4 separate regions of the Homo sapiens genome follow, and all the other regions are reported to be linked to region 3. Evidence: microRNA targets listed by miRTarBase, many of them from high-throughput screens and not tested one by one. Region 3 holds a microRNA gene; each other region holds the end of a gene's coding sequence. Distances are between the middles of the regions.
What was found. Region 3 holds the annotated microRNA hsa-miR-4775 (UUAAUUUUUUGUUUCGGUCACU, at 3,928-3,949, shown strand). A microRNA usually pairs through its seed, bases 2 to 8, with sites in the 3' UTR of a target mRNA and lowers its output. Matches are read on the target gene's strand: a 7mer-m8 pairs with bases 2 to 8, a 7mer-A1 pairs with bases 2 to 7 and ends in A, and an 8mer does both.

Region 1: the mRNA of WTIP is a reported target of hsa-miR-4775. Seed matches in the 3' UTR shown: 7mer-A1 at 2,231-2,237.
Region 2: the mRNA of SYT13 is a reported target of hsa-miR-4775. Seed matches in the 3' UTR shown: 7mer-A1 at 3,216-3,222 and 8mer at 3,475-3,482.
Region 4: the mRNA of USP37 is a reported target of hsa-miR-4775. Seed matches in the 3' UTR shown: 8mer at 6,023-6,030, 7mer-A1 at 5,322-5,328, 7mer-m8 at 4,269-4,275, 7mer-m8 at 3,859-3,865, 7mer-m8 at 3,346-3,352, 7mer-m8 at 3,033-3,039 and 3 more.

The regions. Positions count from the first base shown.
Region 1 is chr19:34,498,880-34,505,998 of GRCh38, forward strand. It overlaps WTIP (WT1 interacting protein), which reads left to right. Exons shown (of 8, transcript NM_001080436.2): 8 at 1,250-7,119. The coding sequence ends at 1,390. Among named protein-coding and RNA genes, the nearest start is that of WTIP, 21 kb to the left of the region's middle. RefSeq lists enhancers at 1-279, 4,540-5,361, 6,372-6,872, 6,873-7,119 and a silencer at 2,931-2,990.
Region 2 is chr11:45,237,567-45,244,685 of GRCh38, reverse strand. SYT13 (synaptotagmin 13) reads left to right here. Exons shown (of 6, transcript NM_020826.3): 6 at 330-4,384. The coding sequence ends at 634. Among named protein-coding and RNA genes, the nearest start is that of SYT13, 45 kb to the left of the region's middle. RefSeq lists an enhancer at 555-1,055.
Region 3 is chr2:207,750,889-207,758,007 of GRCh38, forward strand. MIR4775 (microRNA 4775) reads left to right here and starts at 3,919; the gene lies at 3,919-3,993. CCNYL1 (cyclin Y like 1) reads left to right here. Exons shown (of 10, transcript NM_001330218.2): 9 at 69-231; 10 at 2,700-5,286. The coding sequence ends at 2,810.
Region 4 is chr2:218,448,531-218,455,649 of GRCh38, forward strand. USP37 (ubiquitin specific peptidase 37) reads right to left here. Exons shown (of 26, transcript NM_020935.3): 25 at 7,050-7,119; 26 at 1,721-6,487. The coding sequence ends at 6,400. VIL1 (villin 1) reads left to right here. Exons shown (of 20, transcript NM_007127.3): 20 at 693-4,765. The coding sequence ends at 806. Among named protein-coding and RNA genes, the nearest start is that of VIL1, 33 kb to the left of the region's middle.

The sequences.
Region 1 (7,119 bases), not on the chromosome of region 3:
AGACTCTGTCTCAAAAAAAACAAAAACAAAAAACCCCATCACGTTTGGCTGGGTGCGGTGGCTCACGCCTACAATCCCAGCACTTTGGGAGGCCGAGGTGGGAGGATGGTTGTGAAGCCAGGGGTTCAAGATCAGCCTGATCAGCATAGCAAGACGCCATGTCTACAAAATACAAGGGGAAAAAAATTAGCCGGGCATGGTGGCACATGTCTGTAGTCCCAGCTGCTTGGGAGGCTGAGGTGGGAGGACTGCTTGAGCCCAGGAGTTTGAGGCTGCAGTGAGCTGAGATCGCACCACTGCATTCCAGCCTGGGCGACAGAGTGAGACCCTGTCTAATAAACAAAAAACAGGCCAGGCACGGTGGCTCATGCCTGTAATCCCAGCATTTTGGGAGGCCGAGGTGAAGGATCACTTGAGGTCAGGAGTTCTAGACCAGCCTGAGCAACATGAAACCCCATCACTACAAAAAATAAACAAAATTCACAGGGCGTGGCAGGGTGCGCCAGTGGTCCCAGCTACTCAGGAGGCTGAGGTGGGAGGATCACTTGAGCCCTGGAGGTCGAGGCTGCAGTGAACTGGGATCCAGACACTGCATTCCAGCCTGGGTGACAGTGAGAGACCCTGTCTCAAACAACAACAAACGAATAAACAAAAAACACCCAAACCATCAGGTTTTTATGCTGACACCCATGTTGACTGCTCAGCCCTCTCCCCGCAGTCTGACTTATATCCAGTGACTTCCTCTTGGATACCTGAGAGGCAGCTCCAGTCTCCAGTGCTCCACGCCGGGCTTCCCATACCCCCTCTGGCAGAGGAAGAGTCTTTTTTTTTTTTTTTGAGATGGAGTTTCGCTGTTGTCACCCAGGCTGGAATGCAATGGCAGGCTCTCTGCTCTCTGCAACCTCTGCCTCCCGGGTTTAAGTGATTCTCCAGTCTCAGCCTCCCAAGGAGCTGGGATTACAGGCATGTGCCACTATGCCCGGCTAATTTTGTATTTTTAGTAGAGACAGGGTTTCACCATGTTGGCTGGGCTGGTCTCGAACTCCTGACCGAAGCGATGATCCAGCCGCCTCAGCCTCCCAAAGTGCTGGGATTACAGGTGTGAGCCCCTGCGCCCGGCGGAAGAGTCTTCATGTTGTTTTGCGGCACCCTGCAGATCTGCCCCTCCCCTCCGTCCCTCCCCCGTCCCGTGACCTCTGATGTGCGCTTGTCTGCTGACTCTGGGGCTGGGGGCTGTGTTCTTCCCTAGGACTGCGGGCTGCAGCTGAGCGGGGAGGAGGGACGCCGTTGCTATCCCCTGGCGGGCCACCTACTGTGTCGTCGTTGCCACCTGCGGCGCCTCCAACCTGGGCCTCTTCCCTCACCCACTGTGCACGTCACTGAGCTCTGAGCAGGGGAAAACCCGTCCCTGGGCCGGGGTGGGTGTGGGTGTGGAGGGAGGGCCCGCGTGGGTGGCCCTGGTCAGCGTCAGGGGAGCTCCCTCCAATCAGTTTCCCACCGAGCTGCTGTCTGCAGGGGCCGGACCCCCGCGTGGAAGCTTCTATTTATTCACCGTCTGTGCCTGCTCAAGTCACTTCCCTGCGGGCCCTGCCTCCCACCCACCCCATCACCAGCTTTCCACTTGGAGGCCCCCTGTGCCCTGCAGCCTCAGGGTAGGCCGTGGGTCACCAGGCTGGAGAGGGCCCCTGCCTTGGCCAGGGGTGCGAGGTGACCCGGCTGCATTGCTGGGTGGGAGCTGCTGTCTGTTGTTCAGGGGCCTGGCCCCCGCCCTCCCCCCCGACCCCGACCTCGCAAAGCGCACTCCCGGGCAGGGTGTGGTCTGGAAGGCGGGGCTGGCGGGGACATGGGTGTTCCTGCATCTCCTAGCGCAGTTCCTGCTGGTGGGTGGAAGGGTGCCTGGTTTAGGCGGGGTCCCAGGAGGGGGTGAGGGGTGACACCCTTGGGGAGGGGGCCTGCAAAGGGCACTGCCTGTGGCCACGTGGTGTCTGTGGGAATTGGTCCTGGGGACTTTGATGGGTGTTTGCGGCCCCAGTTGCCGCCCTGCTCCCTCTTCCAGGGCTCCTGGCTTGGGCCCCCCGACCCCCCTGCTCAGCTCGGGAAAATCCCCGTGCGGCTCCAGCCCCGGGTCACGCTCAGGAGCGATGAGAGGGGCGCCCTGGCCACGCTTCAGGAAAGCCTGTGTCTGCGCGCGGGGCAAGGGGCTCCACGACAAAAGGACAAGATTTGACTTAAATTAAGTTTTTCCCTTGAGGATATTTTCATTTTCTTTAAAAGAATATAATTTTCTTCTAAGATCTTGGACCAGCCTTGTTATTTTTAAAGCAAATGCCGGCAAACTCACAAGTGTCTAGTTTGTCTGTTACGGAGCTGGTTTTCAGGTGGTAAGAACCTTGTGGTTTCAGGACTTTTGTCCTGAAATTCCTCTAAAACTTCGCCACGCGTGTCCACCTTTCAGACTTTAGGGTAGTGTGGGGTTCCGTGTGTGTCCGGGTGTTAAGGGCGGTCGCCCCATGAAATGCAGTGTGGAGGTCCCTCCGTGCTCCCCGGGACACACTGACGGGAATGTGGGGTCTGGACATGGGAGGCCCTGGTCCTGATGCGGAATCCCCAGGGGTTCAGGGGACATCTGGACTGAAGTCACTCGCCCCTGGGAGAGCCTGGACCCACCTCTTGGCTGCTGCTCTCCCCTTCCTCCCCCACCGTCAGGTGTGAGTTCTGTGAATCACTCGCGGGGCTGGGCTAGGCTCCGGGAACCAGCAGGGCTGTCCAGGCCGAGCCCAAGGGAACAAACACCAGGAGGCGCCCGCAGGGAAGTGGCGGCTTCGGAGTCCAGCAGGGCCGAGGCATGGCGCGGGCGCCACCTGGTGGGCTGAGCCGGCAAGTACAGGGGTGGTCAGGGAGCCTTAGCCAGGGACTTACACAGCGTGGAGAGCGCTGCATCTTAGAGTGGGGCCTTCAGCAGGACCAGGGGCCACTTCTTGGAGGAGGTGATCCCACTGGGGCCAGAGAGTAAAGTCCAGGCGTGGAGGCTCCGGTGCTGGCTCTCTCCTGCTAGCTGAGCTGCTTTTTCTTTTCTTTTCTTTTTTTTTTTTTGAGACGGAGTGTCATTGTGTCACCCAGGCTGGAGTGCAGTGGCACAATCTTGGCTCACTGCAGCCTCCGCCTCCCGGGTTCAAGCAATTCTCCTGCTTTAGTCTCCCGAGTAGCTGGGACTACAGGCGCACGCCACCACGCCCGGCTAATTTTGTATTTTTAGTAGAGATGGGGTTTCACCATGTTGGTCAGGCTGGTCTCCAACTGCTGACCTCAGGGGCGATCCACCCACCTCAGCCTCCCAAAGTGCTGGGATTACAGGTGTGTACCACTGTGCCCGGCTTTTTTTTTTTTTTTTTTTGAGACAGGGTCTCGTTCTGTCGCCCAGGCTGGAGTGCGTTGGCACAATCTGGGCCTACTGCAACCTCTGCCTCCAGGGTTCAAGTAATTCTCATGCCTCAGCCTCCCCAGTAGCTGAGACTACAGGTGTGCCCCATGACGCCCAGCTATTTTTTTTTTTTTTTTTTTTAAAGACAGAGTCTAGCTCTGTCGCCCAGGCTGGAGTGCAGTGGCGTGATCTGGGCTGACTGCAACCTCTGCCTCCCACGTTCAAGCATTCTGCCTCAGCCTTCCAAGTGCTGGGATTACAAGTGTGCGCCACCAGGCCTGGCTAATTTTTGTATTTTTAGTAGAGTCGGGGTTTCACCATGTTGGCCAGACTGGTCTGGAACTCCTGGCCTCAAGCGATCCATCCGCCTTGACCTTCCAAAGTTCTGGGATTACAGGCGTGAGCCACTGTGCCTGGCCTTACTTTTTGTATTTTTAGTTGAGAGGGGGTTTCAGCATGTTGGCCAGGTTGGTGTCAAACTCCTGACCTCAAGCGAGCCCACCTTGGCCTCCCAGAGTGTTGGGATTACAGGCTTGAGCCACCGTGCCTGGCCTGGGCTCCTTTGCCTTCTAACTGGTCAGTTGCAAAGCTGTCCTCTGAACTGTCCTCTCTGCTTCCTCCCTCAAACCTGCTTTGAGCCGGGTTTCTCCTTGTTGCCAACCCGGTCCTTCTCCTCCCCTTCCTTTGCATGTGCCATGGTGGGCCCTGTGCTTATATCCATGGGGTTGCTTCACTGAACCCTGCTCCATCCCGGTCACCATGCACGCTCCTGCCAGCTGGCCTGAGTCATCACAGCTTGGAGTCCCCCCAACCCCACCCAAGTAACACACTTTGTCAAAGGTCGCAGTCAAGGGACTGCATAGGCCCTTGGGGCAGTGGCCTCACCAGGCCACACTCTGCCCTTTCTTTCTGGGCCCCTGGGCCCCGCATTGCCTTCTGTCAGGGCTGGTGGCCACTGCTCCACCTCCTCCCCCGGAGCTGTGCATGGCAGTTCCCTCCGTGGGAGCCACTCTCCCGGGGTTTCTTCCTCTATGAAGAAACCTTGGCCTCTATGAAGTCAGGCCCCAGTTGTGACACCTCACTTGACACCCAGAAGTCTTGGCCTCTGCTCTCCAAGCTCATTTGCCAACAGCAGTATCTCCATTTCATGCCCAGGGGTGACACTGACCCCATGATTATAGAGATGGAGGATGCTGTGTGAGAACTGGGCTGAGCCATGCCAGTGGCCTGTGACCCTCCAGCCCTGGATGCCACCCCCCACCTGCCCAAGGGGACCCCCACTGATGTGGTCTCTGCTGACACCTGTGCCTGTGCCTGGGGTCCCTGTCATCCTTCCCTGGTCTGAGTGGCAAGTCTCCTGCCATCCCTGTCCCCGCTATGCGGTGAGCTCTTCAGCTTGGGCCCGCCTGGTGGCTCACGCTACTCTCCACCGTGCCTGGATTAGGGCGAGTGCTGAGGCTGGAGCTGACCCTGCCCTGGCCTTCAGGGTCTTGGCTTAGTTCCACCTGCACTGGTCCAAGTCCAGCCTGGTTGCCTAGTGAAGGATCCACAGTGGGTACATAAAGGGCCAAGCGCTGTCCACGTGGACACATCCTATGTGGGCGTGAGTGCTCCCTGCAATCCCCAGACAAGCCTGCCTCTCAGCGGGGCTCAGCTCAGAGACATAGACCCTGGAGGGCTGAGTCTGCCTGTGTGCGTGTGTGTGTGCATGTGTGTGTGTGTGAGAGAGAGACAGGGATGGGGGGAGAGTGTGTGTATCAATGAGAGAGACGGAGAAAGTCGTGTGTGAAAGGGATTGAATATTTCAGAAAATGAATGAGAGAGATTGGGAGAGATGGTGGGAGGTGGAGTGGGAGAGAGACCTGTTGTTTAAGAGGGAGACTGAGTGACTCCGAGAATGAGGGGGAAAGATACGGAGACAGGATAAGCTGCAGAGAGAGAGGGAGAGAGGGATTGAACTGGAGCGAGACCAACAGAGCCCTGACGCTGGGATTTGGGAGGATTTGGTGGGTTCTCAGTGACCCCACTGAGGCCTGACCCACCAGTGGAAAAGGCTCACCTCCTGTAAGTGACCACACTGTGGGGTGTAATTGTGTGTTTGTTTGTGTGTGTGTGTGTGTGTCTGTGTGTGTGTTGGCGTCGCCCTGATGGCCTCTTGGAGGGTCCTGGGGTGGGTGGGTCTTGGGCATGGGGTGCCCTCTGCCCTCATTCTTTCTTCATCCGGGCTCCCTGCCCCTGTTGGGGTGGGAAGCACAGATGTCAGCTTGCTGAGCTGCAGGTACCATGACAATCCCAAGTGGAACTGCTCTTGGGGGGCTGTGTGGGGAGGGGCCACTGGGCAGGATTTATGAGACCTGGGCAGAGGTGTGGGGAGCAGTGTGGGCCAGAGGGTGACTGGGGGTTGGGGTGAGTTGGGTAGGGTGCAGCTGTGCTCATCCCTCCCACCCAGCCCCACCCTGAGGCTGGTCTCTAGCTCGTGAGCAGAGGCCGAGAGAAGGCCCTTCCCCATCACGGGGTCCTGTCTCGTCCGGTCTGGCAGCCCTCATCTGGCCAGGAGGCCAGCAAGGACTTCCGGTGCCACACTCGGGAGGGGTGAGGGCTTTGCTGGCTGCAGGGTTAGGAGTAGGCGCAGCCTGTGGGGCCCAGGAGAACCTTGGGGTGGGGATCAAGAACAGGTCTGGGAGAGGGGGGAGCATCAGGGCCACCTGCAGCCTCCACCCAGCCCAGCTCTGGAGGCTTTGCCCCCACCCCGCCCCCATGGTAGGCGTGTTCCCTAGAGGCTGGTGGGGACCTGGGAGAGGGGCATGTGCACACATTTCATGGGGATGATGGGGGACTCTGGGAGCCAGCCTGGGTGGGGGCTCAGAGGTGGGAGGGGCCCTGAGGCCTGAGGTGGTGGAAGGAGCTCACCTATCTCAGGCCCAGGCCCTTGCCAGGTTCCTAGTCCCTGGCCGGATACCCCAGGGTGGCCTGGGATCCTGGAGAGTGCTCAGGAAACTCAGGAGGAGTGTGGACGCGGCTCCTCTCCTTCCACCCACTTCCCTGGCCCTGAGGGCATTGCTGGGCCACCATCCCAGACCTGGGGCATGTGTCACAGGGCTGCCAGGAGGGCATAGGGCCCAAGGATTCCCCAGGGATGCCAGCCCCCCTGTGGGCCCTCAGGACTGGTAGCCCTGGGCCCCCTGGCGCTTTGTAGGGAGGTGCTCAGCAGTGATGGTTGTGTGCCTGTCACACCCACCCACCTGTGCCTCCCCCCACCTGCCACGCCCATTGTCCTACACCCAGCGCACACTCCTCTCCACGCTGCGCACGTGAACCCGCCCGGGTCACACACCTGCCCTGCCATGGTGACAGGACTGTGTGGGATCTCTGCCTCCCTGCCTGAAGTTCCTGCCATTGGGACCTGTCACAGGCACACAGGACACAGCTGGCTCACCCTCTTCTCTGACAGCACCTGGGCCATCCCTGATAGTGATCAGCCCTGCTGAGGAAGGGTTAGGGTGGGCTGCAGGCTGGAGGCCAGGGAGAGGCCCTGGACCGGGCCTGGCATTTACTCACCCTCCTCCCATCCCACACTGTCCCGGAGCCTCCATCTCCACCTGAGCCAGCTGGGTTGATGCGGATTTCCAGGCATCCTCAGCGGGACCCATGGCCTGGGGTCACCACCTTCCTGAGCTGCGTGGATCTCAGCCAGGACT
Region 2 (7,119 bases), not on the chromosome of region 3:
GGCCTAGTGGGGGAGTGGAGAATAATCCCCAATGCAAGGAAATGAAAGCATCCTGGATCGACTCCTAGAGTTATAGATTGTCCGGGTGGGATGCTTTCCTGCTGGTATAGCAGAGCCTTCTATGGTCACATAGACTTGGGACCTGTGCTGGGGTATCCAGAAGGAAAAACTGAGGCCTCTAAGATGTTTGGGTATATGGGGCACAGATGTCCGAACTCTTGAGCATCTTTCCAGCACCAGGAGGGAGCTTTGTCCTGGGCCCTGCCAGATCCCAGAAACTCACTCTTGTCCCTTCTCTCTGTCTCTTTTTCCCCTCTGCCCCTCCCCAGATGTCTCTGTCAAGGTGACCTTGAAGCACCAGGCTCGGAAGCTGAAGAAGAAGCAGACTAAACGAGCTAAGCACAAGATCAACCCCGTGTGGAACGAGATGATCATGTTTGAGCTGCCTGACGACCTGCTGCAGGCCTCCAGTGTGGAGCTGGAAGTGCTGGGCCAGGACGATTCAGGGCAGAGCTGTGCGCTTGGCCACTGCAGCCTGGGCCTGCACACCTCGGGCTCTGAGCGCAGCCACTGGGAGGAGATGCTCAAAAACCCTCGCCGGCAGATTGCCATGTGGCACCAGCTGCACCTGTAACCAGCTGCCCAGCTGCCTCCCTTCTTGGACAGCCCTGACCCGTCCTCTGCAACCTCCTTTCTGTGCCCCTTTCCTCATTCTGACACCCAGAAGACAGTGACAGATGTGTTTGCAAGGCTGGGATGGCTCTCTCATCATACTCTTGTTTCTTAGAAATAAGCAAGACAGAGCAGGAAATGGAATATGCGGGTCACACTGAGGAATGCATTTTGCTCATCTGTGTTATTGAAGGAGGTGCTTATTAAATACAGTTCCTATGCCTGTTTTATAGGTGGGGTTAGGCCAGATGCAGAGAAAGCTAAATGTGGGAATCATGGATGCAAAGAAGAATTTGGCTTTTTGAAAAACAAGCATTTCAAAAATGATGAAGGAAGTGAAAGTATCCTGGATCAACTCCTAGAGTTAGAGATTGCCCAGGTGGAAAGAAACCTTAGCCAGCGTTCAATCAAGCTCACCATGCAGGGCAGTCACCCGGCAGTTCTCAAACTTTAGCATGTGAAGAGTCACCAGCAGATTCCTGGGCTCGCCTGGAGACATTCCTAGTCGGTATTCCTGGTCGAAGCCCAGGAGCCTTCCTTTTTAACAAGCTGATGTAGAGGGTGGAGCACTGTATGTGGAGAAATTCCTTCTACAATATTCCACACAGGTTTTTGGCCACAGTCCTTGATGGAGTCCCAAAACCATGGTGCAGCCAGTTCCAATGCTGGACACCTCAACCATCAGGGTGAAATCTGGGGCCTCAGCTTTTTAATTTAATTATTTTAATTCTTAATACTTTAATTTGTGCATTTCATAAGCCCCCTGCTCTTGGACTGAATTTTGTGCTTTTTATTGAAGAATTTTATTGTTTTTATCTTAAAATCAGTTTCTATTATCCTTGGGGAGACCATCCCTAACAAAGTACAGGTGGGATCTCCTGTGAGTCATTGGCTGGGTTCTGATTGCTAGATGTCACACCCACCAGCATCACCAAAGTGACTCTGAGATAGACCGGTCCCTTCTCAGCGTTCCAGTCACTTCAGGAGGAATTTAGTTATTGACTTAGTCTATGACATCTGGCTACATGTAGGTAGAGAAGAAAGATAATTTTAAAAAGGAAATCAGGTCTTTTGCAACTGTGCCTCCCTCTGTCTGTTTTCACTTGAATGGGTAAATAACCAGCAGCTAGGTTTTGAATTCCTACCTTGTTATTCTAAACAGATGTCCACATTGTTAATTAAATCTAAATTATGAGCCTTGCTGAGTGGATACGGTACTTACACCTGAACCAGGATTCCTGGGTTCTGTTGTTGACATTGCCCTTCAGCACCTGTTTGGCCAGCTGTGTAAGATAGGACTAATGACTAGGAAGCCTACCCCAATGAATGATATACTAGATGAAATAGTGTTCAAAACCTGTAGGCACTCTCTGGCTAAAAACAAACTCTGAGGCCACCAGCAGATCATCTTTAAGCTAAGTTACTATTTTTCACCTTTTTTTTTAGACGGAGTTTTGCTCTTTGTTGCCCAGGCTGGAGTGCAGTGGCACGATCTCGGCTCACTGCAACCTCCGCCTCCCAAGTTCAAGCGATTCTCCTCTCTCAGCCTCCTGGGTAGCTGGGATTACAGGTGCCCACCAACATGCCTGGCTAATTTTTGTACTTTTAGTAGAGATGGGGTTTCACCATGTTGGCCAGGCTGGTCTTCAACTCCAGATCTCAGGTGATCTACCCTCCTCGGCCTCCCAAAGTACTGGGATTACAGGCCTGAGCCACCGCGCCCGGCCTATTTTTCACTTTAATTTGGCAGCTGAGAATGCCCAGAAAGTGCCAGAAGCATCGTGGCATTTCCAGAACCATGGATTCTGCCTTTGGACCCCTCTCTATTAATATTAAAACTCTGGGCCTTCAGATGTCACCCTAATCCACTTCCCTAAGACAGAATTTCTGGACAAGATGGGTAAGGGCTTCATTCCTTCAACAAGTCAAGTCATACTTGGCCTCTCCCTGAGAATCTGAGCAGGAGCCTTATAACCTGTGGTCATTATTTTTTCTTTCTGTACAGAAATAGAAAAGCATTAGAAATAACTTCTAACCATCCTCTGAAAAAACAGAAAAAATATCGAATCCCTCTTTCATGAGAAGTCTTTTGGATAATTGGAAACCTTCATCACTGAGGTTGGCCAGCCCCTGCCAAGTGTTGTGTAGGCAAAGCACTTGTTAGTGGCTTCCTATGAAATGTTTTAGAGATCTCTTCACCATACTGGTTTCTTCTCTTTGGTTGGTGTGGGTAAAAGAAAACAAAACATTTCCTATAAGCTGAAAGCTGACCAGCATTCTCTTCTTGGTAACATCTACTACTCCAATCTAGAAAATTTGGATTCTAGACCAAAAATCAGGAAACATGGCTCCTTATAAATCTGTGCAGCTGCCTTATAGTACCATCAAAGGAATTTCAGGTGGGCTGGGCGGGGCCCCGATCCCAGAATTATCAACTCCACCCATCATCATTTGGTCATGAAGCATCCTTTCATTCTTCTTCTTCTTTTTTTTGGGGGGGCGGGGCGGGGGAGGGATCTCAAAGTTTTAGTCTTCCAGAATCCAAATTAAAGGTTGCCCCTGATGGGGGCCAGGTTCCGCCACAGAACATCTTAGATGTCAGCCTTGACCTCACTTAGCAGGGATTACAGAAATGAGATACATTTTGAAGGAGAGTTGTCTGTTATGTTCACTGTATTCTAAGTGCCTGGGATAAAGCTGTCTCATGGGTGCTCCATATATATTCATATATATTTGTTGAGTGAATTAATGAATTAAGAGTGGCTGGCAGAGTAGGCAGAAAAAGACACTGCAAATGGCATAAAAATTAAAGTCCTAGCTGAGTTCTCAATGGTAAAGGCATCAGATGTCTTAGCAGTCAAGCTAGAAATTCATGACAATGAGTATTACTATTTGCCTAATGGCAACTCATTGCTCTCCATGTAAATGTAATCAACAGATGAAGAGAATATAATTGCTCTGCTTTTCCACTAAAACTCCATCTTAGTGAATTTTAAATTATCCAGAGATGTCAAACTGCCAAATAAAAATATTTCAGTAGTCTTTGCATCAGCTTACCTTGTACCAGAAACATTTCCAATTTACTATCAAATTATAGTAACTGAGCCTGTGTGAAGTATCTCATCATTTTCGAAAGGAACACCTTGTGTGATGCCAGTGAGCATTTCTAAAAAGGGTGTGAGGTAGAGGTAAAAATAAGGTGAGAGACCATTTCAGAATGCACTGTTGCTCAAAAAGGTGATCTGGTTCTTTCTTCAGAGATTTCTACGGGGATAGAAAATCGGGAGTCTGCCCTCATTAATCTGTGATTCCACCTCTTGCACCAAATCAATATCTATTTGTTGAGCACTTATTGATTAAGACCTTGCATATGTCTGTCCATTTTGATTTGAGATACAACTTTTTGTGTGGGTTGAATGACAAATCACTCCAAACAAAGCTGGGCACAGAGAATCAGCTAGGAGACCAGTTATTCAGGGTCCATTTCTCTTGGATGTAAAGGAGTCCTGGGTAAAATGTGGCTGTAACCTAAACCAACTAGTCCTTGTGATTTGTTTCTGCCCTCTGTGTTTCCTGTTGTCAAATGCTAAGTGTGTGTTTTGCAGTCATGAACTAAAGCACAAAAAGATGCATGAGACATTGTAGTCATATGTCTGGTGTGACACTTTGGAGCAAAAACCTTGCAGTGGTAAATAAAAAATTTCCAACAGGGTCAGCTGCCTGGTGTTTTCTTTTTTTCCGTTTTACCTAATATTTTGGCATATAAAATGCAGAAGAAATCATCTGATAAGCACTTATGAGCCACTGCCATGTTTAATAAAACTTGACAACTACAATTGAAGTACCCTCAGTGCCCTTTACTCAGAAGACCATGACCTTGGATTTGGGGTTTATCATCCCAGGCATTCCCTCATACTTTTATTACATGTCTCTGTAAGCCCTGAGTTCCATAAAGTGTTTTTAAACTTCATTTAAATTGTATCACACTATTTTCACTCAACATTAAATATTTCAGTTTCATCTGTGCAGACACATGCAGCTCCAGTTTATTTCTTTTTCACTGATGTATGATATTCCATTGTATGGATATGCCACAGTCCTATGCAGTTGATGTATATCTACATGTTTCTTTTTCTTTTTTTTTTTTTTTACTGTTACAAGAAATGCTGCTATGACATTCCTCTGCATGTCTCCTTGTGCGCTTGTGTGAGTTTCTCTAAGATATATACCCAGGAGTGAGTCATAGAGTACTCTGTGCATGTGCATGTGTGTGTACCTTGGTGGCCTTGCTTGAGTACTGAATCAAAGAGGCTACATACAATTAGGAATGCCAAGGTTGGGTGAAGCTTTTCAGGGATTTGGCTTCATTGCTGGGGAGAAAAATTTGGTGGAAACTACTAACTTCTCTTTCTTTAACATTCCCCAAAGAAATACTCCATCAATGGAAGGGTCTAGTAGCAGCCAGTGGTACTCATGAACTCCTGGTGGCAAGCAGGGACAAGGGCACTCCTGGAGTCCTGTCATCCTAAGCCTTCCTGGTGGCCACTACAGCCCTGGCCTCTGGAGGAAGAGGGATTAAGCAAGGGGCAGAGCCTGAATTTTCAAGCTAGTAGAAAATTAGCCAGGTCACACAGAATTAAAATAGAAGGTTCTTAAATAGGATAAACAATCCATAAAGAAAGCCATGAGATGTCGTTGCTTTCCAAGTCTGCACATAATTCCCTATTTTATATTATGTATACACATACATTCTATTGTAATGGCAACTAGCATTTAAATTTTCATAATAAAGTAGGATCAGTTGGTTTTATCCCACATAGTCGAATGTTATGCAGACTATGTTTCACAGGTAACTATGAATATGGCCCACCTGAACCCAAAACTCATACTTAAGAGTCTGGATTGATGTAAAAGAGAAATGGAAGAGGGAAGCAGAGTTCATGAGTCACTTTATACATGGACTTTCCATTGAAATGCTTCGAATAACAAGCACTGTTCCTGCGTATAAAATTGACTCATGTCTAGAGCATTGCCTCAGAAGCTGGGAATCTGCAACCCGGCTTGGCTTTGTGACTGACCACTGTAAAATGAATTTGGAGCAAATGATCACTAAGGCTCCTTCCAGCTTTAACATTTTGTGATTCTATGACCTAGACTGTCAACAGCTTTGGCTCCTTCCAGCTTTAACATTTTGTGATTCTATGACCTAGACTGTCAACAGCTTTTTTTTTTCTTTTTTAGACAAGGTCTGGCTCTGTCACCCAGGTCAGAGTACAGTGGCACAATCTAGGCTCACTGCATCCTTGACCTCCCAGGCTCAAGCAATCCTCCCACCTTAGCCTCCTTAGTAGCTGGGACCACAGGCACATGCCACCACACCCGGCTAATTTTTTGTATTTTTTGTAGAGATGGGATTTTGCTACGTTTTGCCCAGGCTGATCTCAAACTCCTGGACTCAGGCGATCTGCTCACTTTGGCCTCCCAAAGTACTGGATTACAGGTGTGAGTCACCACACCCAGCCAACAACTTACTTTTTACACATACCTTTAGCCTTCTATCTTGTGCATAAAACAAATTAAACCTACATACATGTGTACTTGCCCTCCCTGCCCCATGCCTGCCTGGCAATGTCCCCCGGTATCTCCTGACACTCCCTCCTGACAGCTACCCACTCCTCTAGACAACCTGAAATGGCACCTGAGGCTTCAAGTCAGCCTCTTCTCATTTGCTTAATTGCTAATGGAGCTGGTGGTAATTTTCCATCCAAGAGTTTCATTTTTTTTTTTTTTAGAGCCAGTTGGAAGCATCACCATTTCAGGAGCTCTGAACTCTAGCATCTGTTCTGTCTCCCTCCTGAGGCAGACGCCTGGCAAGGATAAAGCCACAGGATGTGGCTGTGGATGGATTTAGGGAGCTGGGCATTTTCTTAGTCCAAGTGTTGGAGAACTGTCCCCTTGCTCCACTTCCTCATCTCCTGCAGGTGAGCCAGCACAGATGGCCCCTGGCAGGGACCTCAGCAGCTTCCTCAAGCCAGAGAAGAAGACCCCTACCTTGGAGGAGGATGGGAGGAAGCCAGACTTTCTCCCAGATAGGCGCCTCCATCTCTAGAAGCCAGACGTTGCCATGGAAACTGAGCTACTGGTGGCCACTGTGTGATTTGGCCCCTGTGCTCGCTCATCCCCAGCCAGGTTTGGTCTCCTGTCAGTGCAGCCTATCCATGCTAGGGCATATAGTTCCCCAGCTCAGTTTCCCAGTGCCCTTTCTTGGTGTTTCAGGACAGCCTGTTGGCAAGTGAGCAATGGCAGAAATCCTGTTTCAGAAACCTAGGGATTACAACCAGGGACAAGCAAGGAGGAACCTGCTTTTCTAGCCAGAACAAACAGAACCTCTCTGCAGTCCCTTTCTCGGGGGCCAGGTGAGATGAGCTGCAGGAAGCAGAACAAGGT
Region 3 (7,119 bases):
ATTTTTGAAGATAGCCCAGTTGACTGACATTGTCCTGTGCTGGTTCTGTTGTGTTCTTCCTCCTCCAGGAATGAAATGGAAAGGCATTTTCTGGAGCTTCTTCAGTTTAATATTAATGTTCCTGCCAGTGTTTATGCCAAATACTACTTTGACCTTCGCTCCTTAGCAGATGACAACAACCTGAATTTTCTATTTGCTCCTCTTAGCAAAGAAAGAGCACAGAACCTAGAGGTAAGGCTATGAAGTCACTAAGTGAGGTTTTCCATCAGCCACCAAAGCCAACATCTGTGACTAAATCATATTAAGTAGTGATTAGGAAAATGGAAAGCTTTAAAATTAACTAACACTGAAGAGCTTATTAGCCCTTTGGCGTCAGATTTCCTGTGTCTTGTATGGTTTATACAAGGATCAACATTATTTAAAAATTATACATATTAACTCTTCTGTGACCATAATTCAGAATATTTTAAATCAAATTTAATCTGTTGTTAATGAGGTTTCCTTTTGAACTTCTACCCTTTCACATAACCATACATGAATAATTTTTTTAGCTGGGCACTGTGGCTCATGTCTGTAATCCCAGCACTTTGGGAGGCTGAGGTGGGCAGATCACTTGAGGTCAGGAGTTCAAGACCAGCCTGGCGAACATGGTGAAACCCTGTCCCTACTAAAAATACACACACAGGCCGGGCGCGGTGGCTTACGCCTGTAAGCCCAGCACTTTGGGAGGCCGAGGAGGGCAGATCACCTGAGGTTGGGAGTTCAAGACCAGCCTGACCAACATGGAGAAACCCCGTCTCTACTAAAAATACAAAATTAGCCGGCCGTGGTGGCGCATGCCTGTAATCCCAGCTACTCGGGAGGCTGAGGCAGGAGAATCGCTTGAACCCGGGAGGCGGAGGTTGTGGTGAGCTGAAATCGTGCCATTGCACTCCAGCCTGGGCAACAAGAGCGAAACTCCATCTCAAAAAAAAAAAAAAAAAGTACACACACACAAAAATACAGGCATGGGGGTGCATGCCTGTAATCCCAGCTACTTGGGAGGCTGAGGCATGAGCATCGCTTGAACCTGGGAGGCGGAGGTTGCAGTGAGCCAAGATTGCACCGCTGCACTCTAGCCTAGGTGACGGAGTGAGATTGTGTCTCCAAAAAAAAAAAATTTTTTCTTTGCGACTGTATTCCTAATTTTATCTACATACATAATTCACTTGCCACTCTTGACTGTCTTACTTACTGTTTGCAAATTCATGTCATGGTTTATGTATCACAGTGCAGTCCCATGAGTTTTTTAGACAAAGGATTAGTGGATAAGCCAAGAGACCTATACCCTTCACTGTATAGGATGCAGGTGTTTCAAATGCTGGATGTAAGTGGTAGGCATGGTGGCTCACACCTGTAATTCCAGCATTTTGGGAGGCCGAGGCAGGTGGATCACTTGAGATCAGGACTTCAAGACCAGCCTTACCAACACAGAGAAACCCGGTCTCTACTAAAAATTCAAAAATTAGCCGGGCGTGGTGGCAGACGCCCAGTTACTCAGGAGGCTGAGGCATGAGAATTGCTTGAACCCGGGAGGCGGAGGCTGCAGTGAGCCGAGATCATGCCACTGCACTCCAGCCTGGGCGATAGAGCAAGACCCTTGTCTCAAAAAAAAAAAAATAATAATGTAGGAAGTACATGGGTTTTTAATAGAAATGGTAACTTTATGGGGCAAAGTAATATTTATGGCTTATGACTCTTGGTGAGTATACAGCAGAATTACAACTGAAATGGACACATATTTTAAACTAACACTTTCTGTGGTACCTTGGTGGTACTTTAGAATAATATGTATTTCTAGGCTGGGCTCAGTGGCACATGCCTGAGAGTGGCTCATGCCTCAGAGGCTCATTCCTCCCAGCACTTTGGGAGGCCGAGGCAGGCGGGATCACCTGAGGTCAGGAGTTTGAGACCAGCCTGGCCAACATGGTGAAACCCTGTCTCTACTAAAAATACAAAAAATTAGCTGGGTATGGTGGCACATGCCTGTAATCCTAGCTACTTGGGAGGCTGAGGCAGGAGAATCGCTTGAACCTGGGAGATAGAGGTTGCAATGAGCTGAGATCACTCCAGCCTGGGCAACGAGCGAAACTCTGCCTCAAAAAAAAAAAAGAAAAAAATAATAATATGTATTTCTACCATAATTAACGTGCATGTGAAGTAATACCTTTTGGCGCGTCAGTCATCAGACCGCTCATATGTTCCAGTATAGTCCAGCACACACCTGCCTCATTAAAATGTGCTTTGAGTATATAATAGCTAATAAGGATTGGGTAGAATTTGAATAGCTGAATAAACATTTTTTTGCACAAGTGTACGTTTGTTATATTTAAGGAATAAGTTAACAGATAACAGATGCTATTGCTGTTAGGAGCCCTATCACAATACCTTTGATATCTTTGGGAATCCAGTTTTTTAATAATATAATAAATTCCCCTTTGTTCTCTGGGAATCTAACCATAGCCCTTAAAGGATATTACCTTGGTGAACTGTCAGGAAGTAGTGTCCCCACAACCTGGCAGTGTAAAACTCAGCCAAAGTAGCTGTAACTGTGAACTATCTAAAGGAGTCCACATGTGTGGCTTTCACAATGGTGCTCTTTCAAAGGCGGGAACCCTTTTTAAAATTGTACCTGTTTTCTATTTGATTGACTTTCCTAGGCTATTTCTAGATTGTGTGAAGACAAAGACTTGTGTAGAGCCGCTATGAGAAGGTCTTTCAGTGCTGATAACTTCATTGGTATTCAGCGCTCTAAAGCCATCCTCTCTTAAAAGGAGAAATGAGGGGTTATAACGTCATGGGACCTTCATCTACAAAGACTGGAGAAATACCACCTTTCCTGCTCAAAAACCAGCAAAATTAGTGTTTTCATCAAAAGGAAAGATCTCAAATTCAAGAGACTCATGGACAACAAGGATTATACTCCACAGGAAAGAATGGGACCTTGTCAATGCAACAAAACACTCTTCTGTCCTTTTTAATGTAAACAGAGTTACAAAAACCACTCCAAAGTGAAGGCTCCCATCCTACACACAGATATTTGCTTACTGTGTGGGCCGATAGCTGTGAACTATGTAAGGTTTTTTAAACAATAGTTTAAATTTTTAGACTTTAAAGACACTAACCATATAACTTTTATGTTTCTTCCAGTTTCTCTCCCTCCCCCCGCATTTTGCTGCATATGCCTTTAAAATCAATGCAGTATTACCATTAAAACATGGGACTCTAACTAAAGCCACTTAGGAGCAGACAGCAGCGTTGTTAGGTACTGAAGGGTTCTTCCTCCCTACTGTTACCATTGAAGCTGCTAGTCATTGGCAATCATTTTAAACCAAAAAGCTGCTGGATAACATTTGTCATTCATATTCTTTGCAAGCATTACTTTAGCATTTTAGCATGTTTGGGGTCATAAACAGAGGAAGTATCAGTTATTGATATCTACTTCTATTGGAGTCCATGTTGCATTTCTTGTGAACTATAAATGGTGCTTCTCATTTTCTGATAATTTTTCTCTTGCTAAATAAATGTATTAAAAGATATTTTCATAATGCCAACCAACATGGTGGTTCAGTGACGATGAGAAAAAGTGAAGCAGTTTTAAGCTTGAATATAGTTTGGGCCCTCCAAGGCACTGCAGCATGAGTATAAATGCTATAAACCTTTAAAAAACATGATTTGAAAGTTTTTTGTTTTGTTTTGTTTGTTTTTAAAGAGATGGGGGTCTTACTGCGTTGTCCAGGCTGGAGTGCAGTGGCTTTTCACAGGTGCAATCATTGTGCACTCACTGCAGCCTAGAACTTCCTGGTCTCAAGCCATCCTCTAGCCTCAGCCACACAAGTAGCTGGGACTACAAGTGCAACTGGCACCTGTCTCCTGAATATTAAGCTTTTAATTTTTTGTTTCGGTCACTCTTGATAGCAGACATTGACTGAAACAAAAAATTAAAAGCTTTATATTCAAAATTTGCAAAATGAAGCTGGGTGTGGTGGTGCACGCCTATAGTCCCAGCTACTTGGGAGGCTGAGGCTGGAGGATTGCTTGAGGTCAAGTATTGGAGGCTGCAGTGTACCATGATGGTGCCTATAGGAATAGCTACTACACTCCAACCTGGACAACGTTATCAAGACCCCATCTCTTAGAAAAATGCAAAATTAAATGCAAAAGAAATGGGCTGGGCATAGTGATTCATGCCTGTAATCTCAGTACCCTGGGAGGCTGAGGTGGAAGGATTGCTTGAGTGCAGGAGTTCAAGACCAGTCTAGGCAACATAGTGAGACCCTGCCTGTAAAAAAAAATAATAAAAATAGTTGGATATGGTGGCATGTGTCTGTAGTCCCAGCCACTCTGGAGGCTAAGGTGGGAGGATCAGTAGAGCCCAGGAGGTCAAGGCTGCAGTGGGCCATGATCATGTCACTGCTCTCCAACCTGGGCGACATCCAGACCCTGTCTCAAAGAAAAAAGCAGAAGAAAAATGTTCAGACAAGGTTTTGTAAAGGTTTGTAGCATTTATATTTCTACAAGTATCAAAGCTTAAAATTACACTGAACTTTTGGAATACCTTGTATCTCCATAAAATGCCCTCTTTTTAAAAGTAGTTACCCGCAGAGCTGTGCTCTATATGCTTTGATTACCGCAGTTTCTTTAAAGGAAGATTTTGAAGAGCAGTGTTAATTAACATGTAATAAAAGGAATTGGACCCTAATTATAGAAGGTGATATGAACAGCTGTTTTATCATCCTACATGCTACCAAGCTGTAGGTGTCCCATTAAGTCCTGCTATTTAAGAAATACTTACATAACCCTTAGGAACTCTTCAGGCTTTAAAAGGCAAGGAGCAAATAATTTTAGGAGACCGATAATGTCACCTAAATTTGAAATACTAAGAAGAGGTTAGTGTTCTCAACTATGTGAAATCTGTTTCTCCTACTTTCTCAAATCTAATCCTAGGAATCTTGCTTATAAACAAAGCATTTCTGGGACAGGAGTACTTCCTCTATTATAGCAATGCTTCACATCATATTGTGCTGCAGTTTCCATCATTTTTAAAGGACAGAGACATAAATGATAAATAATGGTATACAAATATTACAATCTACCACCTCAAAAAAACAAATATTGTTTATGGAATTCAGAGTTTGGAGATTCAAGTATTGATTGCAGTTTTATTTTGAAAAGAATGCTACAATTTATGTGGTTTTTATTTCTCATGTTTATATTAAAAGCTAATAAACTCTATTTTAATTAAAATATGGCTAGTGTGTTTGTAACACTTCTATCCACATAGTGTTACATCTCTGCCCAGCCTAGTTTTAAGTCAATCCTGATATGTCTTAAAGCATTTTCAAACCAACCATAAGTTGATTTGATCCATGCCTCTAGTTAAGATGTAGTGATCCATTTCTTTTGCATATGCTCTTTTCAACCTGAAGATAATTTATTACACTTAAAATCACTGACCACAATACTTAATGGCATAGTGCATTAGATGGCATCTTGAATAGTTGGTTATCGTGTCTGAGAGGGAAAAGCACATTAGAATATAAAATTAAGCAAAATGTATCAAAGAGAAAGGAATTAAAGGAATAGCGTAGAATTAGAACAAGAGGTATTTGAGGTTTTCAGACAAACAGGAAAGAGAATGGAAAGACAGGAACTAGAATTTGTGTTGCTGTTGAGAGGATGTCTTAAGCCACATAATTTGACTTTAATGTGCTATTTTCAAGCTTACATTTCAGTTAAAAATATACCAAGTCACTATTAGGTTTCTTTAGAACTAAGAGTCTAGCCACTCAGCTTTAGCAATTCTCAATAAATCCTGATAGCATTGCAATATTTTCATCCACTTTAATTCTTCATTACCTAAAGTCAAATATTTAAGTAAATGATCACAGTCAGGCACGGTGGCTCACGCCCGTAATCCCAGCACTTTGGGAGCCCAAGGTGGGTCGATCACTTGAGGCCAAGAGTTTGAGACCATCCTGGCCAACATGGTGAAACCTCGTCTTTATTGAAATTACAAAAAAAGACGGTGCAGTGGCTCACGCCTGTAATCACAACACATGAGGTCGGGAGTCTGGCCAACATGGTAAACCTCGTCTCTATTTAAAAAAAAAAAAAAAAAAAAAGCCAGGTGTGATGATGCACGCCTGTAATCCCAGCTACTCGGGAGGCTGAGGCAGGCGAATCCCTTAACTCTGGAGGCGGAAGTTGCAGTGAGCCAAGATGACGTCACTGCACTCCAGCCTGGGCGACACTGCAACTCCGGCTCAAAAGAAATAAAATTAGAAAAACGTTAGTGGGACGTGGTGGCACACGCCTGTAATCCTAGCTACTCAGGAGGCTGAGGCACAAGAATCGCTTGAACCCAGGAGGCAGAGTGCAGTGAGCCGCGATTGCGCACCACTGTACTCCAGCCTGAGCGACAGCATGAGACTGTGTCTCAAAAAAACAAAAACTAACTGATCACTGTGTCTTGATAAGTTGCCGACTAGGATAAAAGATCTAACTTAGGAAAAAAATCTATCATACGTCACTTTATAAGATGGTTTGCACCCTGTGATATGCCAGTTATAAGCAGAAATGCTGACACATTTGGCCAAAGGTTTAAAAGTTGGGAGAGGGACATTGGACATGAATCTGTGACTTGAAGAACAAGTTGGTAAAATAAGTATCACTAAGCTGCTCTCTTCCTTTGACTTTTAATTCTAGAAGGCAATACAGCGACTTTGATAAATGGGAAATTGGGTCAGTTGAGGAAAAGAGTATAAATGTCACTGAAAAGCAGGTAGGTTCTCTGACAAATGGGGCATGGAAACCAAGTTGCTAGTGGGGTGGTAACTATGGCATTTTTCTCAAGAGTTCTATACCTAGGGAAGATTCGTTCCCTAACATGAGACTTTAAAAAAGGGCTGATTACCTGGACTCAAATTTATTTTCATTTGTAGGTTTTTTTTAACTACTATAATACAGACCCCAATAGAATATTAACTTTGGTATATTGTGAATTGAACTTTCACATTTTCATTACAAGACAGAATACCTGAAACATATTTGATAGGAGTCTGGGGGTGAAGAGTTAAG
Region 4 (7,119 bases), 11 Mb from region 3:
TCCAGCCTGGGGAACACAGTAAGACACTGTCTTAAAAAAAAAAAAAAGTTCCCCATTTAATAGAGAGGAAACTAAGGCTTGGAAAGAGGAGTCCTAATTCTTATTTGGGCTAATGTGAACTTGACCCTTGTACAAAGAAAATCTCAATCTACCACACTACTATCTTTTTCATTGTTAAAAATTCAGGGATCAGGCCAGGTGTGCTGGCTCACACCTGTAATCCCAGCACTTTGGGAGGCCAAGTAGGGTGGATCACTTGAGGTCAGGAGTTCGAGACTAGCCTGGCCAACATGGTAAAATCCCGTCTCTACTAAAAACACAAAAGTTACCAGGGCATGGTGGCGCATGCCTCTAATCTCAGCTACTTGGGAGGCTGAGGCAGGAGAATCACTTGAAACCAGGAGGCGGAGGTTGCAGTGAATTGAGTTCATGCCACTACACTCCAGCCTGGGCAACAGAACAAGACATGGTCTGGAAAAAAAAAAAAATCAGGGATAAACCTCTGGAATACCAAAATACCATACTCTCCTCCTCTCCATCCCTTTCCTGGCTCTCCTGACACTGCTTCTGTTTACTCTTCATTTATTTGATTATATACCACATCTATGACTCATCAGAGCAAACGGTGCCTGAGGGTGAGGGAGGAAGGAAGGATATGTGACCTTTGCCCTCTGGTCCCTCTCTTCTTCTAGGAACACCTGTCCATTGAAGATTTCACTCAGGCCTTTGGGATGACTCCAGCTGCCTTCTCTGCTCTGCCTCGATGGAAGCAACAAAACCTCAAGAAAGAAAAAGGACTATTTTGAGAAGAGTAGCTGTGGTTGTAAAGCAGTACCCTACCCTGATTGTAGGGTCTCATTTTCTCACCGATATTAGTCCTACACCAATTGAAGTGAAATTTTGCAGATGTGCCTATGAGCACAAACTTCTGTGGCAAATGCCAGTTTTGTTTAATAATGTACCTATTCCTTCAGAAAGATGATACCCCAAAAGGAGCCTATGGTCCTCATTTCAACTTCTAAGGTCGCTAGATTGTTTCTATCCTGAGGTATTGCATCAATTTTAATACTCCTATAGTTTTCTCTTCTTAGAAGAGCACAAACACTCCATGGAACATTAGAGTTCTGAGGCACTACCCTAGCTTGTCCTCTATCATGACTCATTTTTATCTATGGCAGGTAGGCTGAAGCACTTTGCAGGTTTACATCTTCCCCAGAGTAACAGCTTTTCCTTTTCACATATACTTTCCTTACTGCCTTACTCAGTGGGTAAGTTAAAGGGCTGAAGGAGAGTTGAATGGTCCACAAGACTACCCTCTTAAGAGGTTTCACAAATTCCAAACAGTACCAGTGAGAGCAGCACTTCCACTGGGGCTAGGCTTGAGACCTAAAGGCAAGTATGAAATGCATATGCTACTTCACTCCCTCTCCCAACCCTTAATAATGAGGCAAAGCAAGAGCCTAGTGAAGGCCAATGCTAGGTTTACAAACTTACCCAGAAGCCTCTGCAAAGCTTCACAGGCTCCTCAGATGAAAATAACAGGAATCAATGGGGACTACGGCCAGACACTGGTTTGCCATTCTGTTCCTTTTAAGAAGTAACAGTGCTGCAAGGAAGTCCATGTCAGAAAGCCAACAGAAGGTGATTTCCACAACTTTGAACAGGTTGTTACAAGTATCAGCAAGAATGTGTCCTTTTCAGAAATAACAGTCAAATCAAAGAAGGTTAATAAAGGCTTTAATTTCATACACACAAAAAAACTCTATGCATAATTTAAAAAGGAAACAAAAACAAAGAAAAACCGTAAAGGATACAGAGGAACAGTTCTGCTAAAACACAGATAAAAGTGCCGCTCCATACAAAACATAAAGAATCAGAATCAAAAGTCACTCTGAACATAAAGAAAAAAAATCATCTCACAAATAATGTGGCCACAGCTGCCAGAAAACCTGGTAGTGGCTCAATTAGGCAAAGTGTAGGAATCTCATTTTTGTTTTTCTCTCCTTAAGTTTAAAGAAACAACAATGACAATAGGCCAGAGAAGTTAGGGAGGGAAAGAAAAGCTCAAAGGGAGGGAAACCTGGGGACAAGAGGTGTGCACACCCACATGTGGTCTCACTCTTCACACAGGCCCACTATTTTTGAAGTAGACCAGTTTAGTTGACTGTTCTTCTTTGTTCTGGCATCTGACTGGACCAACCTGGAACCTGGTCCAGACCCTCACCCACTCTATTCTTATGCCAATGGACATACCTATACTTTGAACCTCTGTACTTTTAAGAAAAGTCCAATGTTACAAAATCAAATGCTTATATTCAGACTGGCACACTTTTTAAATAAAAACTCCATACACCTCAGACATATAGCACACATGGAGACAACTTACTAATTGTGTGTAAGTATGATACAATGAATGAGACTGCCTGAAGTCTAGTAATCAAAGCATGCCATAAGGTGAATGATTGTGGTTAAACACAGCAAAATAATTGTCACAAAACTTTCAAGGCCTAACAAATTAGAATTTTCCAATAAAAAATATATATTTTTTCAGATGTTAATAAGACATATCAGTAGAGACAAAATTAGGATTTTGAAGTAATGCAATAAAAAGATGTTGGAGGGCAGAAGTCTATTTAGTTTTTGTATACACTTGCAAGAGTGCATTACTCAGTATAAAGCAAAATGGGGAGGAAAAAGACATCCATCCATTTTATTGGAACACTTTTATGTGACTTGAATCTGGTGTTAGGTTGTTGATTTTTCTAAAAATCTCCTATATATACAAAATCCATATGTACTTGGAGATCCAGCTGTTGCCCCCTGTTTAAAACAAAAGACCACCTCGGGGGGTCAATTAAATTAAAAAGGCCCTCCAACCACCCTAAATGGGATAACTAAGAGTATCTACTGCAGTCATTTCAGAGGACAGAGAAGGAAAATATTTTAATTTGCTTTAATATAACCTCTTTTCAGTAGATCACAAATGAGTTTACAAACTACTTTTTTTTCTCTTTAATTTAGGTGTTTGCAGATAATTTTCATTATATCCGTAGCTGTATGTGTGTATAGTTACATAATGGTAACTACACACGATACAGAAGAATCAGTAAATTCATGGATTATTTTGCTGAGGTTTTAAATTTTAAAGCCTCTGTTTCAGAATTTTATACTTGATCAAGGAGAAAAATAAATGTGTAGTCTAACATTTGCTTTCTGGAGTTAATTAACTGATCTGTAAGAACCACTGCATATGTCTTAAAATGTAAACATATTTACATTTGTTGTATTTGTTATTGAGCCTTTAAGGTTAGGCCCAGAATGAACAGACCATAGCAAGTAAACAAATAATTTTTAGAATCAAAGTATTAATAGAAGACCAGTTCATGGATTTGCTTATTCTATCCTGCTGAGACAAAACTCATGAGTGTGCACACACATGTGAATATATCCCTACGAAACAGTCTATCTTCTCATAGGCTTAAATTATAGTCATGGCTATTAAAGAAATTAACAGCATCCAGCCACATGCAACTTTCCAACCTTCAGTACTATTAGGTGATTAAAATCAACAAATATGAAGTTTAGTTCATTTTTCCCTTAAAATTCCAACAAAGATCAAAAGGTTGTATCTAGAACTAATTGCCATCAAGTTCCAATTCAATGTCATTTAAAGTAATGTAACCACACATTTGGTATTTTCAATAGGAAGGTTAATTAGGTATTGTGCAAACTGCCTGCAACGGAAGCACTCAGTCCTTATCTAACTTGTCCCTTCCTGGCCCCAACATGCTAACTGCCCCATCCCCAATTCTGGGCAAACTGATCACAATGTGCAAAAAATAATATATTATCTATTTATAATTTTAAAATATATACAGCCAGCTCAAAAACAACAACAAACCCCATCAACATAGTCCAGCTGAAATCTCCACTGGTAGTCAAAGAAGTAGATTAAAGGAGTAAAGGAAGGAGAAGGCTGATAGGGCCACAAGAATGGACAGACATCAAGTAAAATTTGAGTCCCAAACATGCAAGTACATGAGCAGTGAGATAACTTATATATTCCAATAACCTATTTTCAACAACTCCTGCCCAAGACATGAAGATCAAATCAGGTTTCTGAGGTAAGTGTACTTCTAAACCATACACACATGAAAGCTATGAAAGCAATTCAAATGAGGCTGCTTCATGAGGCAATCTAGACTTATGGCATTATTTCTACTTTTCTCCATGTTTTAATTGCAGCCTGCACTTTAAATCTTTCCCAATAATTTTTAACAGTGCCTCTCAAATGCAAAGACACGTAAAAGAATTAATAACTAGCCAAAGAATTTTATCACCGCTTCACTCATTTATAAGAAAACCAATTATTTCCAAGCAAAATCAAACCAAACCAAAGAGGCTCCTGGTAGAAATGAAACAAAACTTTAAAGCTAGTTTTAAAACAAATATTTTCCTCTGCTCTAAACTACTCTGGCGTTTTCTACCACTCTACCATTTTGGAACATTCATTACAATAAGGTATATAGGTAGATGGTAGGAGGCAAAGCATTTATCAGTAGTTGAGCAAAACTGCTGAGGCCATTTATAATTCAAAGAATGAAAACTTAGAATAGTTTACTACATTAGAATACATCCAAGTTCCAAGAGTAGGACTGGAGCTCTCTTAAGGCAATCTTTCAGAAAAGATGTTGCATCTTCTGTGATGATGGTTTGTGTTTTTTTTGTTTTTGTTTTCGTTTTTTTTAATGAGATGGAGTCTCACTCTGTCACTCAGACTGCAGTGCAATGATGCGATCTCAGCTCACTGCAACCTCTGCCTCCTGGGTTCAAGTGATTCTCTCATGTGATGGTGGGTTTTTAAATGTTTTTTCCTTCTGAAAACCTGATGTGGTTTTGTCCCTACCTCTGAGAACTAAAGAATAATCCCCTTGTTTATAATAAAAGAAAAAACACGAAAGAATATAATGATGGTTTCATTTTTCTATATTTAACTCTGTGTGATCCTAATGATATCTGGGCTCACAAAATTATTTTGTGGACAGAATTCCATCCTCAAAAGAATTCTTTATATGGTTTCATAAGCTGCTTAACCAAGCTGGTTACGTCAGCTAAGTGACTAGCATAGCACTTAATGTTGCCGCTCTACTTTGCCTCAACTCAGAGCACCTAAAAAGTAGATAAATAAATTATGCACCTTTGTTATTTGTTAGTTTTTGGGATTACCTAAGCCAATCACATTTTAATTGCAACCCTATTTTAAGGGCAAAGCCAGACAGTAAATGGTTAAATGCCCAAGGTTTGTCCTACAGCTCAAGTACTTAATTTCATACTTGCAATAGGGCTTTTAGCTTCAGTGGTCCAGAATTTTAGCTTTACCAGAAGAACACTCTTCTTATCCTCCCTATGTTTGAGAGACAGAGATGCTAGCATTCTTCCTTATCCCTAAGTATTCCTGCTGGGGAGTCCCAATTGGAGAAATATTATCTTTCTACTTGTTTAAAGTTTTGGTTGCAATCCATTAGGGTAATGCTGCTCCATGGCAGAATGACAAAAAAGAAAAAAGATTCTATCTTTACCACCATAATAATGATGATGATATATGATGAACATACTGTGTGAAGAAATCTCCTTAGAGAAAACAAAGTATATAAGAAATATCAAATGTGGGACTGTAACATATTCCAAAGCACCAACAATCCATTTCTTGGGACTGCATGTAAACAGCAAAGACATCACAAATTCATGAAATTTGCAGACAACAACAACAACAAAACAGCTCCTCAAGTCAGGTGACAGTAATGCCCCTCTCTTGCAAAGAGAACAAACTGTCATTAGTGTAACATGAAGAGCTGGCTTTCCAGTGAATTTTACTAATAAGGAAACACAAAAGGTTACAGACTTGAGTGAAACTACTCAAGGAACATAAAAGCTAAAAGCCAACTGATAAGTATGTCTTCACACATTTCTCAGGTGAATGGACTCTTTGACACCTTCATTTCTTCTCCAAACTGCTGTGCTATTAATTTTGAGCAGGCATATTCTGGTGGCTCATCCTAACTCTTTAAGGCTCCATTCATCCCGTGTGTGTGTGTGTGTGTCTGTGTGTGTGTATACACACATACACAGATATATATTTACAACATGTATTCCTAAGACAAAAGAAGTGCCACTCATAGGAGAAAAAGAGGATAATCAGCTACGGATGTGAGACCAAAGTTTCCATAAAATAGCATGGAGCATTCTACGTTACTCCAATTTTTGTCTTTTGGTTTGGCCCTGAGCTGTTTGTTGCTCCCGCATCAAGTAGAATTCCAAATTCTCCTTCAGCAGAGGAAAGGTGAGGTGGGCAGCAGTAACAAATATGCAGTGCATGCTGCCAACCCAGGAGTTTGTTCCTCACAAGGCCTGACGGGTAGTCTTCCCCACTTCCGTGCTAAGTGACTGAGAGTTCTTTTCTGTTTCCAGCAGCTCATCAAAGATCTCCCTTAAGATAAAACAAGCAAAAAATAAAACTGGAAATTTAGTAAGCAGAACCAAAGAATAGGCAGGAGAAAAAGTAAAATAAAATTGATATGGATAAGGCCTTCACAATTCCATTTCATGCCTGTATTTTATTTAAAAAGCAGCTCACTCATTTGATCTTAACCCTTTGAATGCTGATTTTTAAGAATAGAGGGGAACTGACAACAGTTAGCTTTAATGAACATGCTAGGTAATTCCCATCCATATAAATCAGATCTTCTAGCTGATAAAACTGGATGACCAAAACTATTTATGACAGGACATCTTCTATCATAAAACAAACTGTCTTAACTTCCATACCTAGATACAACTGTGTAATGAGCAATTAATGCTGAGTTATGAGAGAAAATATTCTGGACTTACAAGGAAATATCAAGAGATAGACCCTAACCAAAGATGATAAAAACCAAAAATTTTCAACCAATCAACTGATGGAAACATTTTATCCTCAAAGGAAAAAAAAAAAAAAAAAAGAGTTCCGGTGATTTCTAACTCATTATTTAGAATCTGGCAAAGTTTCTTACTTGTGCATATAAAAGAAGATGTAGCCACTCCGATCTCGATCACTCTGCACGGCAGCCTCTTGGATTTTTG